Linked DNA regions of Homo sapiens: region 1 is linked to region 2. A link means that fine-mapping ties the variant in region 2 to the expression of a gene that starts in the linked region. Tissue or cell type: subcutaneous fat. Region 2 holds a variant in brackets; the other region holds the start of a gene. All regions are shown on one strand. Distances are from middle to middle.

What was found. PIP is the estimated chance that this variant, and not a neighbour inherited with it, causes the effect.
Region 1: it holds the start of LRRC4B, and the variant in region 2 is fine-mapped to the expression of LRRC4B in subcutaneous fat (GTEx, PIP above 0.99). The same link has a PIP of 0.9 or more in thyroid and visceral fat.

The regions. Positions count from the first base shown.
Region 1 is chr19:50,563,485-50,571,484 of GRCh38, forward strand. LRRC4B (leucine rich repeat containing 4B) reads right to left here and starts at 4,951. Exons shown (of 3, transcript NM_001080457.2): 1 at 4,460-4,951.
Region 2 is chr19:50,544,062-50,552,061 of GRCh38, forward strand. It overlaps LRRC4B (leucine rich repeat containing 4B), which reads right to left. Exons shown (of 3, transcript NM_001080457.2): 2 at 4,481-4,812. The coding sequence starts at 4,777. Among named protein-coding and RNA genes, the nearest start is that of LRRC4B, 20 kb to the right of the region's middle. RefSeq lists an enhancer at 7,701-8,000. The variant TC/T (reference allele first, on the strand shown) is at 3,262.

The DNA.
Region 1 (8,000 bases), 19 kb after region 2:
TGCCAGGCACAGAGGGGAGCCCTGTCCTTTGCACCCCTATCTGGAGGTGAGGCCCTCCCTCCAGAAACAGCGTCCGCATCCCAGGTCCTCTAAGGCAGCCCCTGCTCTCCACCTGCTCTGGGGCCAAATGTGCAGCCTGGTGTACAGAGAAGCCCACCCCCTGCCTACGGGCTGTGATGCCACATGCTGGGGACAAGAGTGTGGGGTCTGTGGCCCACCCCAGCCATCAGCCAGCTGAGAAGGACAGGCTGCAACATGGTGCCTTCACGCAACGCTGACTTTCCAACACTGTGAGGGGCTGGCAGTTTCACAGCAGATCCTGGTCCTGGAGAATGGGCGTGTGCTCTGCGTCCTGGCAGTCTTAAGAACCACTTCTCCCAGAGAAGGATAAGACTCTTCCTGCTCTCGGCAAGGGAAGGAGGCCATTTAAGTGGAAACAGGGCCCAGTCAAAGTGAGGCTTGGAGTTAGGGCAAACTGATGGGGGGATGAAGGAGGAGGGGCAGAGAGAGGACCCGGCAAGGGAAACCAAGGGAAGGAGAGTGGAGAGGGTGACAGGGCACAAAGAGATGGAGCAGAGAGGAAGAGGAGCAAACAGCAGAGGTTGCAAACTCCTCTGTCTATGGAGCCCAGCAGGGAAGATGATCCCGATGCTGGTTAGAGGGGAGAGTGGGGAGTGGTGGCCCTTTGCACCTGAGCACAACCCACAGTTATCCAGGGGGAAGACGATTCCAAAAGCTGACAGTCTAGATTTTTATGCAAAATCTCTAATTTAAAAAATGTTGGCAACAAATTAAACATGTTGAAAGCACTGGGGGAAAATAACCCTCTTGGGCCGCCCGGAGGACCCCAGGTAAGTGAGTCCTCAGGGATGTGGGGAGAGGGAGCCACGGGGAAGGAGCAGGGGAGGCGGGGAGGCAGACAGGCTGGCAGGAACAGCAGCAGAGGTGAGGGCGAGTGACACAGAGGGACAAAGAAGGGAGGCACAGAGAGCGGTGTCGAGCAGAGACAGAAATAGAGGCAGGTTTCACAGCAGATGGGGTGGGAGAGGGAAAGACTGATGAATGAGTCCACAGACTAGACGGATGGGCCAGGTCAGCAAGACATTGGGGGCTGGGAGGGCAAAGGGTCAGTCCCAGGGAAGATGAGGGGAGATGGAGAGGCGAGACGGCTTGACAGAGACAGGAGGTCCAGGTGACACCTCGAGACAGATGCCCGGCCAGAGAGAGTGGGGTGAGAAGGGATGAAATGCAGGGAGAGAGGATGGAGAGAGAGAACCAGTGTGAGCTACACAGCAGGTGTCCTAGCAGGTGAGACAGGTGATTGAGGGGGTGGGGACCCTGGCAAGAAAGCAGGGCCAGGGTTCCGGAAGGGACTGAGGATTCAGCGGCCACCCCCGCCCCCAATCCCCAACCCACAGCACCTCTGCCTGAAGATCGGCCTCTCTGCATGGGCCCTGAGGGTGTGTGTGCAGGCACATGTGTGCACAGGCTCTGCTTGTGAGAGATGCCAGCGCCCTCTGATACCTGATGTCTTAATTCTGCTGACCTCTCGGACGGCGAGGAGGTCCCTGAGGAGCCCCGTGGCGAGAGGAACACTCTCAGGGCTGTCTCTGAGTGGGATTAAGGGTGACTGCTGGATGGGGCTGGCCCTCCCTGCAGTGCACACACGTGCCTCCGACGCTGGCACTCGGTTTGGTGTGTGCGCCACAGTGCACAGCTCTGTGACTGTCTTAGCGGCACCTGGGGCTGCATCTCTGTAGCTCTGGGGCCACCTCCGTGCCTTTTGCCTTGTGTCTGTCCGTAGGCGTGAGGCCACGAGGCCACAGGACCACAAGGCAAGGGCCTCCTGCCTTTGTCTCTCCCTCCAGGTCTGTGTACGAAGGACTGTGTGTGTCTCTGTGTGACACACGACTACAGGTCTGGGGACTGCTCCCTGTCTCTCCTGACCACTGGCTGACTGAGTGTGGGGGCTGCGTCTGCAACTGGGCCTCTCTGGTTCCATATCGGGGTCTCTGGCTGCCAGTGAATGACTGTGTGCTCTCGTGTGTGTGTGTGTGTGTGTGTGTGTGTGTGTGTGTACCTGCCAGGGGAATCTTTGCCTCCACGTGCCCCGTGTCTTCCTCGCACGCTCCCACTCTCTGTCGCTGACTTGCTGACTTGGGGTCCCTCTGACAAGTCAGAAGCGGCCTCTAATCCCCCAGAACTCTGGTGGCCAGTGTCCCCCGGCTCCCTGCTGGCCCCAGCAGGCACCCCGCGGGTCTGTCCCACCCTCCCTGAGTCTGTGGCTCCCTGCGTCTCTGCCTCACCCGCGTGTCTGCTCTCTGGGTGGGAGTGGCGTGTGTCCCCGGCTCCCCGACTCTTTCTTTCGGAAATTAAGTGAGTAACTCCGTGACTCCGTGCTGATGCCCTAATTGCCTGTATGTGTGTTTCGGAGGCTGGGTCCCTTCTCTCCCTCTGTGCCTCCCTCCCTGGCTCCCACTCTTCCCTTCCTTGGGTCTCTCTCCCCGCCTTTCGGCGGCTTCACTCTCTGTCCCTCATTTCTCTGTGTGCGTTTGGACAATCCGGTGGCCAGGAGGAGAGGAGCCCCAGGGAGGAGGAGGAGGAGGAAGGTGGGAAGGCGAAGTGGAGGCTGCGGAAAGGCAGGTTAGAAGGCGAAGGCTGCGGAAGATGCTACAGGAAGAGGGAGGTGCGGTCCTGGCCGCGGTCCGGGGGTGGGGGGCGGGAGTTTTCAGGCTCCTGGACCAGGAGGGAAGCCGGCTCCGGCTACTCCCAGCTGCCTGGAGCCCGAGTTCCTGTCTGGCGGCTGCGCGGCCGGGACTTGGGATGTGAGGCGCATAGCAATGGGGCGCTGCGGAGGCGCCACTGCAGCTCCCAGCTGGAGAGGGGGGCGGGGAGGGGGCCGAGGGGCAGCCCCGAGGCTCCCTTCCCCCTCCCCCTTCCCAGCTGGGCTCTCCCCAGGGGAATTCCCCACCCCGACAGAAAGTCACCAGAGGCTGCGGGGAGGGGGCAGGGAGGAGGGGAGGGCGCCTAGGAGGAGAGCAGAGGTGAGGAGGTCTGGGGAAGGAGATGGGGGTGCAGAGAGGAGGCGAAGGGGTGGAGGGGTGGGCAAGAGGCCATCCTGGGCTCTGGAGACTCGAGTCCTGGAGAGAGACTGGCTGGGCCCCTGGCAGGACAGGACCCCAGGGAGGCAGGGGCATAGAGATGGGGGGAACCCTGAGAGCCCGGGATTGATGGTGAGTTGGAAGGAGAGGCTCCCAAAAGGAGAGAGCTAGGATTGGGGGGGTCTGAGACTGGGGAGTACTATGGGGTGAGGAGACAACGATGGAGGGGGTCTCTGGGTGATGAAAGGTCATAGAAGGATGTTTCAGAGAGTGATGGGCTAAGGAGAAGGCGACTGGGGGTGTTGGGGAGAAAGGGGAGAGGCTGGGGTGCAAGGCCCAAAGAGGGGCGGGGAGGGAGTGGGAGGAGGGAGCTAGAGGAGAGGGCGGCTGAAGTGAGGGTCTCCTGGACAGAAGGTCTGGAGAGGGATATCTGGGGGATTGTCAGAGATGGGGGTTAGAGAAGGCTGAGGAGCAGATGCCGTGTCTTAGAAGGTCCTAGAAGAGCAGGTGTGAGGGTCGGAAGCCTGGGGAGGAGGCAGCAAATGGGGGGCGGGGGTCTCCAGGAGGAGAGGTTTCCAGGAGGGGAGGGCGGAGGGAGGTGGGAGAGGCAGTGGTCCTGGAGAGACACGTGCCCAAGGATAGAAGGCCCCAAAGCCTAGTGGGGTCAGGGAACGGGGGTCTTGGAGAGACGGAGGGGCAGGGGTCCGAGCCGCCCACCAGGAGAGGCGGGGTGACCCCAGAGGGAGAAGGGCTGAAGACTGGGGAGGGGGTTGTCTCACTCCCCAATCACCCCCTCCGTCTTTCCCATTTTCACTTCCCAAACTCCCCGGTTCTCCCCGGTTGCCACGGCAACCGCTCTTGCCAGGCGCGGTCACCAAGGAAACCCCGTGCCCGCCTCTCCCCCCTCCCCATCACTGGCGTGCCCCCCCCACCCCAAGCAGCAGCGGTGTGGAGGGTGGGAGGGGCCATGGGGAGAGGAAGAACCTGGACTCCCGCCCCAGAAAGGGGGGCCCGGACCTACGCCCGGAGAGCCCCCCACCCTAAGCCTACTTCCTCAGCCCCACAGCTGGATACGCAGCGACCGCCGGACGCACCCCCCACAACCTGTCCCCAGGCAGCGGCGACAACCACCCCCCCCACAGCACAGAACTCGCCCTGCCCGGAGAACCCCCACCCAGTCGCCTCCCCCACCGGCTTCTGCCTCCCATTAGGCCCCGCCCCCTGTCCTCTGCCATCCCCCCCCATCCCGGAGGAGGCCTAAGACCACTGTCCCCCAATTAGCGAATGCCCCCCACCCACCCCCCGCGGTTCCGCCTCCGGCCCCCGCCCCCGACCCGTGCCCCTTGGCGGCTACTCACAGCGAGGAGAGGGGTTCCTTCCGGGGGGCAGCATGCCCGGCCCGTGGGGGGAGGACCCCCCCAATGAGGCTCAGGAATTTGGGGTGCAAGGCCCGCTGCGGGGAGGCGCGGGGGGCGGGGCTGCGGCCGGGCCTGGAGCCTCTCGCGCTCTCCCCCCTCCCCGGCTCCTGGGTGGGGAGGGGGCTTCCGCAGCGGCGGCGGTGGGGCTGGGGGGGCCGCTCTGCCTCCTCGCCTCGCGCCCGCCTGCCGTCCGGCCCCGCGCCCTCGCCCGCCGCCCGCCTTCCTTCTTGCCTTCCTTTCTTTCCTTCTTTCTTTCCTGGCTTCCTTCCTTCCAGCCTTCCTTCCTTCCTTCCTCCCTCCTCGGGCCCGCCGGCGCCGCTCTCCCCCCACCCCACCCCCCCCCAGGCCCCGGCCCCGGCCCCGGCCCCCGCCTCGGACGGTGCGGCAGCGACCGAGAGCAGCCGAGAGCGGCGGAGACGGGAGCGGAATACTGATGATGGTGGGAGCGGGCGGGCGGAGGGAGGGAGCAGGGAGGGAGGCCCGGGAGGAGAGGAAGGGGGGAGAGAGGGAGGGGAGGGAGGGCAGCGTGGAGAGGGAGGAAGGAAAGAGGGGGGAAGAACCGGAGAGGATGGGAGAGGGAGGGAAGAAAGGAGAGGGAGACGGGAGGGAAGGGGAAGGGGGGGAGGAAAGAAGAGGGAAGGGGAGGAAAGAAGGAAGGAAGTGGGAAGGGGGTGGAAGAAAGAAGAGGGGGAGAAAAAGGGGAGGAGCAGGGGAGAGAGGAGGGAAAGGGGAGAGGGTGTGGGAGGGGAGGGGAGAGGAGGGGGTAACTCCTGCAATAAGGTCCTGGATGAAGGGGAGGGGAGGGCGGGGGGCAGGGGGAGTGGGTAGAGGAAGAGGAAAGGAGGGAGAGGAGGAGTGGAGGGGGAGATGGGTAGAGAGATGGGCAGGAGAGGCCCAGGGGCAGGGAAGTGAGGGGAAAGAGGAGGTAGGGAAGGCCTAACTTTGAGGGCTGCAGGGGACAGAGGGGCCTGGAGGGCGGCGGGGGCTGTGGGGAGAAGAATGGGGGGTGCGGTGTGCGTTGTCAGGAAGAGCAGGGGAAGCTGGCAGGACCCGGAAGAGGCAGGAGGATCTAAGTGGGACAGAGATGAGAGGATGGAAGAGGGAGGGAAGGACCCGTCGGGGGGAGGGGGGAGGAGAAAGATCTCGGGGGAGAGGAGAGAAGCTGGGGAGCTGGAGCTTTGAGGGCCCAAGACTGGGTGGCAAGAGCCCGGGGAGTAGACAGAGTGGGGGAGGGGACAGAGGGCCTTTCTTGAACTCCGCTGTATGCCCGCTTCGTCCGCCCCTCCACCTCATGAAGAGAAGAACCTTCAAACCCATTTTCCAGAAGAGACCACTGAGCTCTTGGAGGAGCCAGGATGGGGTTTGAATGCAGTCTTGGGCTGGGGGTACCCTGAGGGAGATGGAGAATGGGTCAGTTCCTAGCTTTCGTCCCTGGTCCAGACTTGGCAGGTGGAGGCACCTGGGAGGGGCAGAGGGCACAGCCTGCAGCCTCCCTACTCACTCTCCTCTCACCTCCCCCAGGTGTTGGCAGCGGGTGCTGGGGACGCATTTAGAGCTGTGAAGCTGAGCTGCATCTTGGGTGCAGGGAGGGGGAGGGCAGATGCAGAGGCCTCTGGGAGGTCACCGTGACCCTCCCCTCTACCTCCCCGGTCCACTACCCCAAAAGCTTGGGCCCCAAGGAAGGGGGACATCGGGAATCAGGGGCGGAGAAACCCAGAAGGAGGGGTGGCCCCTGTCCAGGACACTGAAGATCCTTCCAGATGTTAAAATTAGCACAGAAGTTTCACCCCTGCCTTGTTATCCCCCAAAACGCTGACTAATAACTGAGGACTCAGGAGAGAGAGAAGAAAGATGAAGGTTCCTTCTTTCAGTGCCAGGGGACCCGGGACAGACTCTCCCTCTTCCCCTTCTCCTCGGAGAGCCCCAGGGAGGGAAAGTGTGGCTGTACCCCTGCAGGCAGAGCCTGGGGAGAGTCAGGGTTGGAAGCTGGAAGGAAAGTGGGCCAGACACATCTATAATGAGCCAGGGTTCCCGAGAGAAGCCAGGTCACAGATGGGTTCGGAAGAGGCGGTTTTGGGTGGGCGCTGGTGGGTGCTGAGCCCTGAGAGCTGCCGAGAGGGGAAACTGAGAAGGGGCTGGGCGAGGGCCAGGGAGTGGCAGGTGGCTGTGGTGCTTCGGGTTTCACCCGCCCCTGGCGCCGCTCAAGTCTAGTTCGTGAGACTGGACCAGTGAATGTGTGTGTGCACCAGGGTCCAGCACAGAGTAGGCCAGGACCGATGGTGATACCAGCAAAACAGAATCACATGGTGGCAGCCCGCGGTTCCTCCTGGTCTCCCACAGGCCAGATGCTGTGCCCAGCACCTCACAAGCGTGGCATCAATCCTGCAACCATGCGGTACCAACTCCTAGGGATGGTGGTACCTGGTGGGCACAGGTGAGAGCAGGCCCCTGATGAGCCCTGAGTTAACCCTTTCATTACAAGAGGGTCTCGGCCGGGCATGGTGGCTCGCACCTGTAATCCCAGCACTTTGTGAGGCCGAGGCGGGAGGATCACTTGAGGTCGGGAGTTCGAGACCAGCCTGGCCAACATGGTGAAACCCCATCTCTACTAAAAATACAAAAATTAGCCAGGCATGGTGGTGCGCGCCTGTAATCCCAGCTACTCGGGAGGCTGAGGCACGAGAATCACTTGAACTCGGGAGGCCTCCAGAGGTTGCAGTGAGCCGAGATCACGTTATTGCACTCCAGCCTGGGTGACAGAGCGAAACTCAGTCTCAAAAAACAAACCAAGAGGGTCTCAGGTGAGAGGCCAAGCCGTGTCAGGTGGGGCCGTTAGAGAAGCAGGGAAGTATTCCAATATTTGAACAACCAGCGAACCCTCTTGGTCCATGCAGCCTAAGTCTCAGCCCTGCCTGGAGGGTATGACTGCCCCTGTTTTACTGAAGGAGAAATGATTTGCCGTCAACCTCCAGAGCTCATCAAGGGTCTTCAGCACCGGGCACTGTTCAGGGCTTTGAGAGCCCGGCCGGAGAACAGTAAGGAGACAGCCCCTGTCCCCGTGGAACTGACCCCTCAAGGTCCTATTTCCAAGAGCAGTGTGAGCAATGAAGAAAATAAGAGGACAATTAGGGAGGAGAGAAGTTGGTGGGCGGTCAGGAGGACAGACTTGAGGTGATCAGGGGAGGCCTCCTGGAGGAGGTGTCTTTTGTGGCGAGGCCAAAATAAGGAGATAGCTCATTGCGTGCACAGGGGCAAGCACCTGGGGCAGAGGCCCCCAGATGGCAGCAAGCCGGGCCCGTTTGAGAGATGGGAGCCAGATAGGTGTGGCGTGGAGGAAGAAGAGAAGCAGAGTGGAAAAAGATGAGGATGCGGCCCCAGGTTTGGCTCAAACACAAAACCAAATCTTAACGCTTCCCACTGTCCCCTAAACCTTGCCCTAAGGCTTAACTCTAATCTCCCACTCAGGTGACTGTCCTGAGCA
Region 2 (8,000 bases):
CTGGGCGTGGTGGTGTGCGCCTGTAATCCCAGCTACTTGGGAGGCTGAGGCGGTAGAATTGCTTGAACGCGGGAGGCAGAGGTTGCAGTGAGCTGAGATTGCACCATTGCACTCCAGCTTGGGCAACAAAAGCAAAACTCCATCTCAAAAAAAATAAAAAATAGGCCGGGCGCAGTGGCTCATGCCTGTAATCCCAGCACTTTGGGAGGCCGAGGCGGGCAGATCACGAAGTCAGGAGATCAAGACCATCCTGGCTAACACAGTGAAACCTCATCTCTACTAAAAATACAAAAAAATTAGCTGGGTGTGGTGGCGGGCACCTGTAGTCCCAGCTACTTGGGAGGCTGAGGCAGGAGAATGGCGTGAACCCGGGAGGCGGAGCTTGCAGTGAGCCGAGATCACGCCACTGCACTCCAGCCTGGGCGACAGAGCGAGACTCCGTCTCAAAAAAAAAAAATAAATAAAAATATAAATAAAAATAAAAAAATAAAAAAGCTAAAACTCCATTTACAAATCAGCAGCAATTGTGCAACACACTGTGCATGGGTGGGGAGGGTGTCCGAATGCAAAGACACCAAAGCGAAGGAGAGCTACCCATGGCTGTGGGATTATGGTTGGCTTCTGTCTTCCTGTTTTTACTTAGGTATATTTTCTAGTTTTTCTCAATTAATTTATATTCATTCTGTAATAAGTAATTAAAAATACACTTATGGCTGGGTTAGGTGGTTTATACCTGTAATCCCAGCACTTTGGGAGGCCAAGGTGGGTGAATTGCTTGGGTCCAGGAGTTCAAGACCAGCCTGGGAAACATAGTGAGACCCTGTCTTCATAAAAAAGAAAAAAAATCGAGACCATCCTGGCTAACACGGTGAAACCCTGTCTCTACTAAAAATACAAAAAATTAGCCGGACGTGGTGGGTGGCGCCTGTAATCCCAGCTACTCAGGAGGCTGAGGCGGGAGAATGGTGTGAACCCAGGAGGCGGAGCTTGCAGTGAGCCAAGATCGTACCACTGCACTCCAGCCTGGGCAACAGAGCGAAGACTCCATCTCAAAAAAAAAAAAAGGTCAGGCTTGGTGGCTCACGCCTGTAATCCTGGCACTTTGGGAGTCCGAGGCGGGCAGATCATCTGAGGTCGGGAGTTCGAGTCTAGCCTGACCAACATGGAGAAACCCTGTCTCTACTAAAAATACAAAATTAGCCGGGCGTGGTGGCACATGCCTGTAATCCCAGCTACTCAAGAAGGCTGAGGCAGGAGAATCACTTGAACCCAGGAGGTGGAGGTTGCGGTGAGCCGAGATCACGCCATTGCACTCCAGCCTGGGTAACAAGAGTGAAACTCCATCTCAAAAAAAAAAAAAAAAAAAAGAATTAGCTGGGTGTGATGGTGTCTCCCAGTAGTCCCAGCTACTCTGGAGGCTGAGGCAGGAGGATCACTTGAGCCAGGGAAGTTAAGGCTGCAGGGAGCCATGATAGTCCCACTGCACTCCAGCCTGAATGACAGAGTGAGACCCTGTCTCTAAAAATGAAACCATTTACATAGAGACAGGAAAGAGCCAGGAAGGCATTAGAACAAAATGTAAACAGTAGTTATTTATATCTGGTGATGGAACTAGGGTGATTTTTTCAATTTTTTATTTGGATAACTAAAGAGTTATTACTTTTTTTTTTTTTTTTTTTTTTAAGACAGGGTCTCTCTGTTGCCCAGGATGGAGTGCAGTGGTGAAATCTCAGCTCACTGCAACCTCTGCCTCCTGGTCTCAAGCAAGCCTCCCACCTCAGCCTCTTAAGTAGCTGGGACCACAGGCTCATGCCACCATACCTGGCTAATTTTTGGTTTTTTAGTGGAGATGGGGATTTGCTGTGTGGCTCAGGCTGGTCTTGAACTCCTGGGCTCAAGCAATCCACCTGCCTCAGTCTCCCAAAGTGCTGGGATTACAGGCATGAGTCACCGCGCCAGGCTAAAAGTTATTACTTTTTAAAGAGCCTCTGGGCCAGGCGTGGTGGCTCACGCCTGTAATCCCAGCACTTTGGGAGGCCGAGGCGGGTGGATCACCTGAGGTCAGGAGTTCGAGACCAGCCTGGCCAACCTGGTGAAACCTCGTCTCTACTAAAAATATAAAAATTTGCTGAGCGTGGCAGCAGGCGCCTGTAATCCCAGCTACTCAAGAGACTGAGGCGGAAGACTCGCTTGAACCCGGGAGGTGGAGGTTACAATGAGCCAACGTTGCGCCACTGCACTCCAGCCTGGGAGACAGAGCGAGACTCTGTCTCAAAATAAATAAATAAATAAATACAAAAATAAAGAGCCTCTGATTACCCTCGACGTGGTCCATGCCTCTTGCTGTCTGGGATGTGTCCACTGAGGGAGGCCAAGCCCACTGACAAACACTCACAAGCATCCACTCTCGTGGACTGGACGAACACACCCTCCATCCATGTCTCTGGGTGGGGCAGGGGGCGGTGCAAGAACCCCTGGGTGGGGAGGATGAGAAATAGAGGCGTCTGGATCCCTATTGATGCTTTTCACCCTTTGACAATGTCCACCTTGGGTGTGTGCTTTACCAGGTGCATGATATACGGAGGGAGCGGGCCTGTGCATGACTTATCATAAATGAATGTACGTCCGCTGGTGGCGCTCAGCACGTTTGTGGGACTGAATTGTTCACTGAGCCCCCTCGCCCCCCCACAAAGAGAAACGGGTCCAGGTTCTACGACGGGGATGTTGCCACGGCCTGGGGCTGCTGGTGAGTGGCGTGGGTGCCTCCCTGTCCCACGCTCTCCCTGGCCATTTCTGCAAAGCGCGTTTCCCTGGCGTGCCGTCCCAGCCACTGGCTCCTTTTCCTCCTCATTTCTTCCCCACTAGAATGTGAGCTGCCGGGGCTAGGGCTGGGCTTTGCCTGGCTCGGTCACCACCCAGGACAGGGCTTGGTGCAGAGCCGGTGCTGCCGGTGTCTGTTGAACGTCACGTGTATAAGTGGGGGAAGGATGGAGTGCAGGGAAGCCGGGGGCAGGTGCATGGGGACCGCACAGTGCGGAATGTCACCTGCTCAAGGGAGATGTGGATGGATCGGTGGAGACTGCAACTAGGGAGATGCAGGGCAGACTCAAAGCAAACTGGCAGACATGGGAGCCTGTGGGAGGTGGGCGTGGACAGAGGGACAAGGCCCTGCGGGAGCGGGGGGTGGTGATGTGACGACGCCCCTGACGTTTCTGGACCCCTTCGCTGGCCCTTGCCCCACAGCCACCAGGAAGGGACTGC[TC/T]CCCTGAGAGGTCCCTTTTCTTCCCTGAATCTGGCTCTCAGGATGGTCAGATGGGAGCAGCCAAGTCCTCCCACCCTTTCCCAGGGACAGACCAGGCAGAAAAGCAGCCGCATTTCTTACGGGAGCTGTTACATCTGGAAGATTAGATCTGGAGGGGCTGGGACCTCTGGCATCGGCACCCTCTTCTCTCCCAGCTTTACAGGCTGGAACAGGAGGAGGCTTGCTTGGAGGCAGGAGTTGGACCAAATCAGCCTGGGGTAATGATCCCCTGGGAATCACTGGCAATGCCTGGAGATATTTTTGGAACTGGGGGTGGGGTGCTACTGGCATCTAGTGGCCGGAAATGCTGGTAAACATCCTACAGCACACAGGACAGAGCCCCCCACCCTGCCCGCCAAAGGATGATAGGGCAGGCCCCAAATGTCAATAGGGCAGAGGTTGAGAAGCCCTGCTTTCTAATAGCACAGCTCTGTCCCCCCAAGCCCTCGCTTACGGCCTATCCTAATCAGAGTCATCATTAATTGAGTGGCAGCTGCCCCATCCTGAGCACCAGCCACAGGCCACCATGGCGCCAAGCACCACAGCGTTCTCAGCCTCTCTGCTCTCCAATTCTCACACCAGCTCCAGGAAATGGGGACGCAAACCCTGCACTGCCCGGCAAATGACCATGGAAACGCCTCCTGTCCTCTGACCACTCGCCAGGTGCCAGCACACAAGCTAACGCCCCAATAAGTACCAGACCCATCAGCCCTCACAGCAACACCTCAACGCAGGGGCTTGCATTGTCCCCGCTTTTCAGATGAAGAAACTGAGGCTCAGAATCATGCCGTCACCTTCCCAAGGCCACGAGAGGGTGTGGTGGTGCAGATGCCACAGGGGTCCCTGTGAAAGGGTTGCTCTCCACACCCCAGGGACTCCAGGGCTCGGCCTAGGCCGACCCGCCTGTCCTGTGCCGGGGGGGCTGGGCAGGTGGCCTGCACTTGGGCCCCGACACGGTGGCTCAGAGACAGGGAGCACTGTGCTCTCAAAGCCCGGAGGGCCTCCACTCCACCTCGGGAGCCCGGCTCCAGCTGATAGGATGCAGACCCGCAGGCCACATCCACAGGTGCCGGAGACGGGGAAGCCCCGGTGTGGGGAGGCCCAGAAGGGATGGGCTACATCTGCATGCCTCCCCAGTGTCCCCTCCAAGGTCCCCCTCTGCCCGCTGGCCCCGCATACCTGGATGCCGTTCTCTTGCAGGTTCAGGTACCGCGTGTTGACCGGGATGCTGGCTGGGACCTCGGCCAGGTCTCTCCGTGTGCAGATCACCCGGCTGGCCTGGTTGCTGCAGGAGCAGGCCACGGGGCAGGAGGTGGCCGGCGGGGAGCCCCCTCCGGCGGCAGACGTCACGGCCACTCCACCTCCACCGGCCCCCAGGGGTGGGGAGAAGAGCCAGAGGAAGAGCAATGCCCCGTGGGGCCAGGACATCCTACCGGGCGGCAGCGGGGGGCACGGGGAGCCGCGGGCACGCGCCATCCTCAATGTTCATGCTCCGCGTGGACGCTGGGGGGCTGTGGGTGGGGGAGAGAAGGGGGAGAGGCTTGGTGAGGGACAGGAGCCCATGTGGCCTGGGTGCTTGCCAACACCCAGGCAGCCCCATCGCCGCCTCCCTGCCCCATGCCCAGAACAAAGGGACAGGGAGGGAGACAGCTGCCGATGGACCCACCCAGCAGGCTGGGGCAGGCAGAGGGAAGCTTGGCCCGCCTGGCCCTGCACTAGCTCATCCTCTCCATGCTGGCAAGATTCTACGCCCATTCTGCAGCAGGGAAAACTGAGGCTGGGGGAGAGGAAGTGCCTGCCCAAGGTCACTCATCCAGTAAGTGCAGAAGTTGTCCAGATTCAAAACCCAGTTCTTTGCATGACTTCAAAAAGGTAGATACATCAGAGGAGTGAGACAGACAGACAGACAGACAAGGCGAGGGGGCAGAAACGGGGAAGAGCAAGCGAGGTGGCGAGGACCTCGCTCCCATCCCAACACCCGCCCGGTCCCCTTGCCACCTGCGTGATCACCTGGGAGGTGGGTCCCAGCCTCCTCTCCCCTCCACTCCCTCCCCCTCTCCCCATCCCAGGGATGTTAGCGAAGAGATGCATTTCCCCCACCCCCTGTGCCCTCAGCTAAACCGAAAGACCCTCCGCTGCACACCCTCCTGTCACTGCCCACCCTGTCCAGGCCCTGTGGGGGCCTCACAGCAGCTTCAGAGACTTGAGTCAGACTCATGGGAGAATCTGAGGGAGAGAGAGGTAAGGTGGCAGACAAGGCAACCGTGGAGGTGACAGGTGTGGGCAGGTGAAGGGAGGGCTGGGAGGCAGCAGGGTGAAGAGGGAGGAGACTGGAGCTTGTGTGTGAGGGTGGCTGGGGACCTGACGGGGGGCGGCACAGGCCGAGAGGCCACCAGCTGCACCCCCTCCTTTGCCCCGAGACTGTGGGTGCTCCAGGCAGAGACAGCCCCGATGGGACTCATGCCAGCTGCTGCCGCAGGACCGAGCTTGGTTCTCGGGGAGGGGATGGGGAAGGGAAGGGGGTCCAGGGACTCTGCCTGGGTTCTGGGAGGAAAGCAGACAGCGGGGACTCGGGCCCTCTGAGAAGTCACGCTGTACCTCCCCAATCTGTCCTGCCCCGCCATTTCCATGGAACCAGAGAGGGAAAGGGGATGGGTGAGTCACAGCAACGATACCAGTAACAATAGTCTCTCCGGAACACTGGGTGAGCCCTTGCAATGCAGCAAACTGTATCCCGGTCATCTCATGTGAGCCTCATAATGACCATAGGAGAAAGCTATTAGGATGCCCAATTTACAGATGGGGACACTGAGGCACTATGAGGGAAAACGGCCTGTCCAAGGGCACAGAGCAGGCCGGGAGGGCGCAGAGGGGGTACTTCGGCCCTGGGTCTACCCTCTGGCTCCCAGCTCTCCTTTGCACGCAGCATCTCTGAGTACACACAAATACACCCACACCAGCAGGCCCTGCCCCAACACAGGCCAACCCCAAACCATTCCCAAGAGACCAGGAGGAGGGCAGGTCACACAAACACGCACACCGACCCACTCACACACTCAGCAGTGATGGGGCACACCCTCTCACGGTGGACTCTCAGGACCCCCCTCTCACGGTGGACTCTCAGGACCCCCGACACAGGCTCACCCCCAGGCACACGGCTATGCACACACACAGTCACTCCCTCCTCCTGCAGTTTCCAAGACCATTTTAACCCAGATAAAAATGTGTGTGCATACGTCTGTGTATCTGAGTGCATGTGTGAGAGCGAGGGCTAGACAGAGACACAGAGAGACAGAGACAGAAGCAGAGGCAGAGAGACAGAGGGCAGGGGAAAGAGGGAGCTGGGGAGAGAAAGAGAGAGAGGTTGATTCTGTGTCCACCCGGGCTCATTTTTCTCCTGCAGGGCTGGGGCCGTGTGTCTGTGTCTGACTATGTGAGTGCGGTGAGGGTCTTCATTTTCCTGAATGTGAACAGGGAGGTCAATGCCCAGTCCTTATCCTGGGTCAGGGGCTCCTACCTCTTAAGACCCTGGCGATGATCCAGCCCACACCCTCTTAGCCAAAGGGCTGGCCCAAAGCGCAGGGCCTGGATTTGAGGCCGGGGGACCCCGCAGGGCCTGTGGGAGCCCACGGCACCCACCCCGGCCTCCAGGCCTGCCGCTGCCATGTCTACCTCCGCATCTGTCCCCAGCTCTCCCGCTGCCAGCCCGCATCCCCCCACCCCCATCACGGCTTCTGCAGCGACTCGGCCTCCCTCCCCTTCCCCCCGCCGCCCTCCGCCATCTCCCATCCTTTTCTCCCCACAACCCCACGGTGGGGGACACTCACCCTGGTGGCTTGGCTTCCGCTGGGCCTCTCCCTGCGCCCAGGCCCCCCCCTCCACATGCCTCCGGCCAGCCGGGGTCTCTGCCTCCCCAGTTCTCCAGGGCTTCCTGTCGAGATCGTGCTGGGGGGGGCGCAGGGGCTTCTTGGGTCTCCCCGCGCCCCCCCCACTGGCCTGTCGCCCTTCCCACCCCTGGGGGGGGCTGTCCTTTGGCCACTGCAGCAGTTCTCTGCTCCCCTCCCCGCTCGCCTCCTCCGGTCTCCTTCCACCCCCTCTCCCACCTCTACCTCGACTCTCCCCCGACCGCAGCCTCCTTTCTCTCCACCCACCGACCCCAGCCCCCTTAACTCTCTCTCTGCCCCTCTCGGTCCTCCCCCTCCGCCTCTGGTCCCCGTCCACCTCCTCTGGCCTCAACCCCCTCCTGAGTCTCCCCCCTCACAATCTTGCCTCCCTCGGGACCCCCAGGCCCCTTCTCTCCTTCTCCTCCATCTATTCCTCCCTCTTGCTCTATCCCTGTCACCCTCTCATCGGCCCTGAGCCCGTCTCAGTCAGGTTGTCTGTCTGTCCGTCTGTCTTGGTCCCTTTCTCCCCGGCTCTGTCTGTCTCTCTCTTTCTCCGCGATTACAATTTCTAGTCACACGGCAGTGCAGAGCCAAGCTGTGCCTCAGCTCCCTCCCTCCCCACCCCTCCCTCCTTCTTTCTCTCCTTCTGAACGGGGAGGGCGCCTCTCCTCCCTCCTCCTCAGCCTCCCTTCCCTGCGCCGCCTGGGGGAGGCCTCCCCCTCCCCCGCTAATCAAAGGCTCCGTTATCTAATTAACCCATTGGTTCTGGGCAGCCGAGGAGGCAGCCGAGGAAGGTCGGGGGAAGCGGGGGAGGA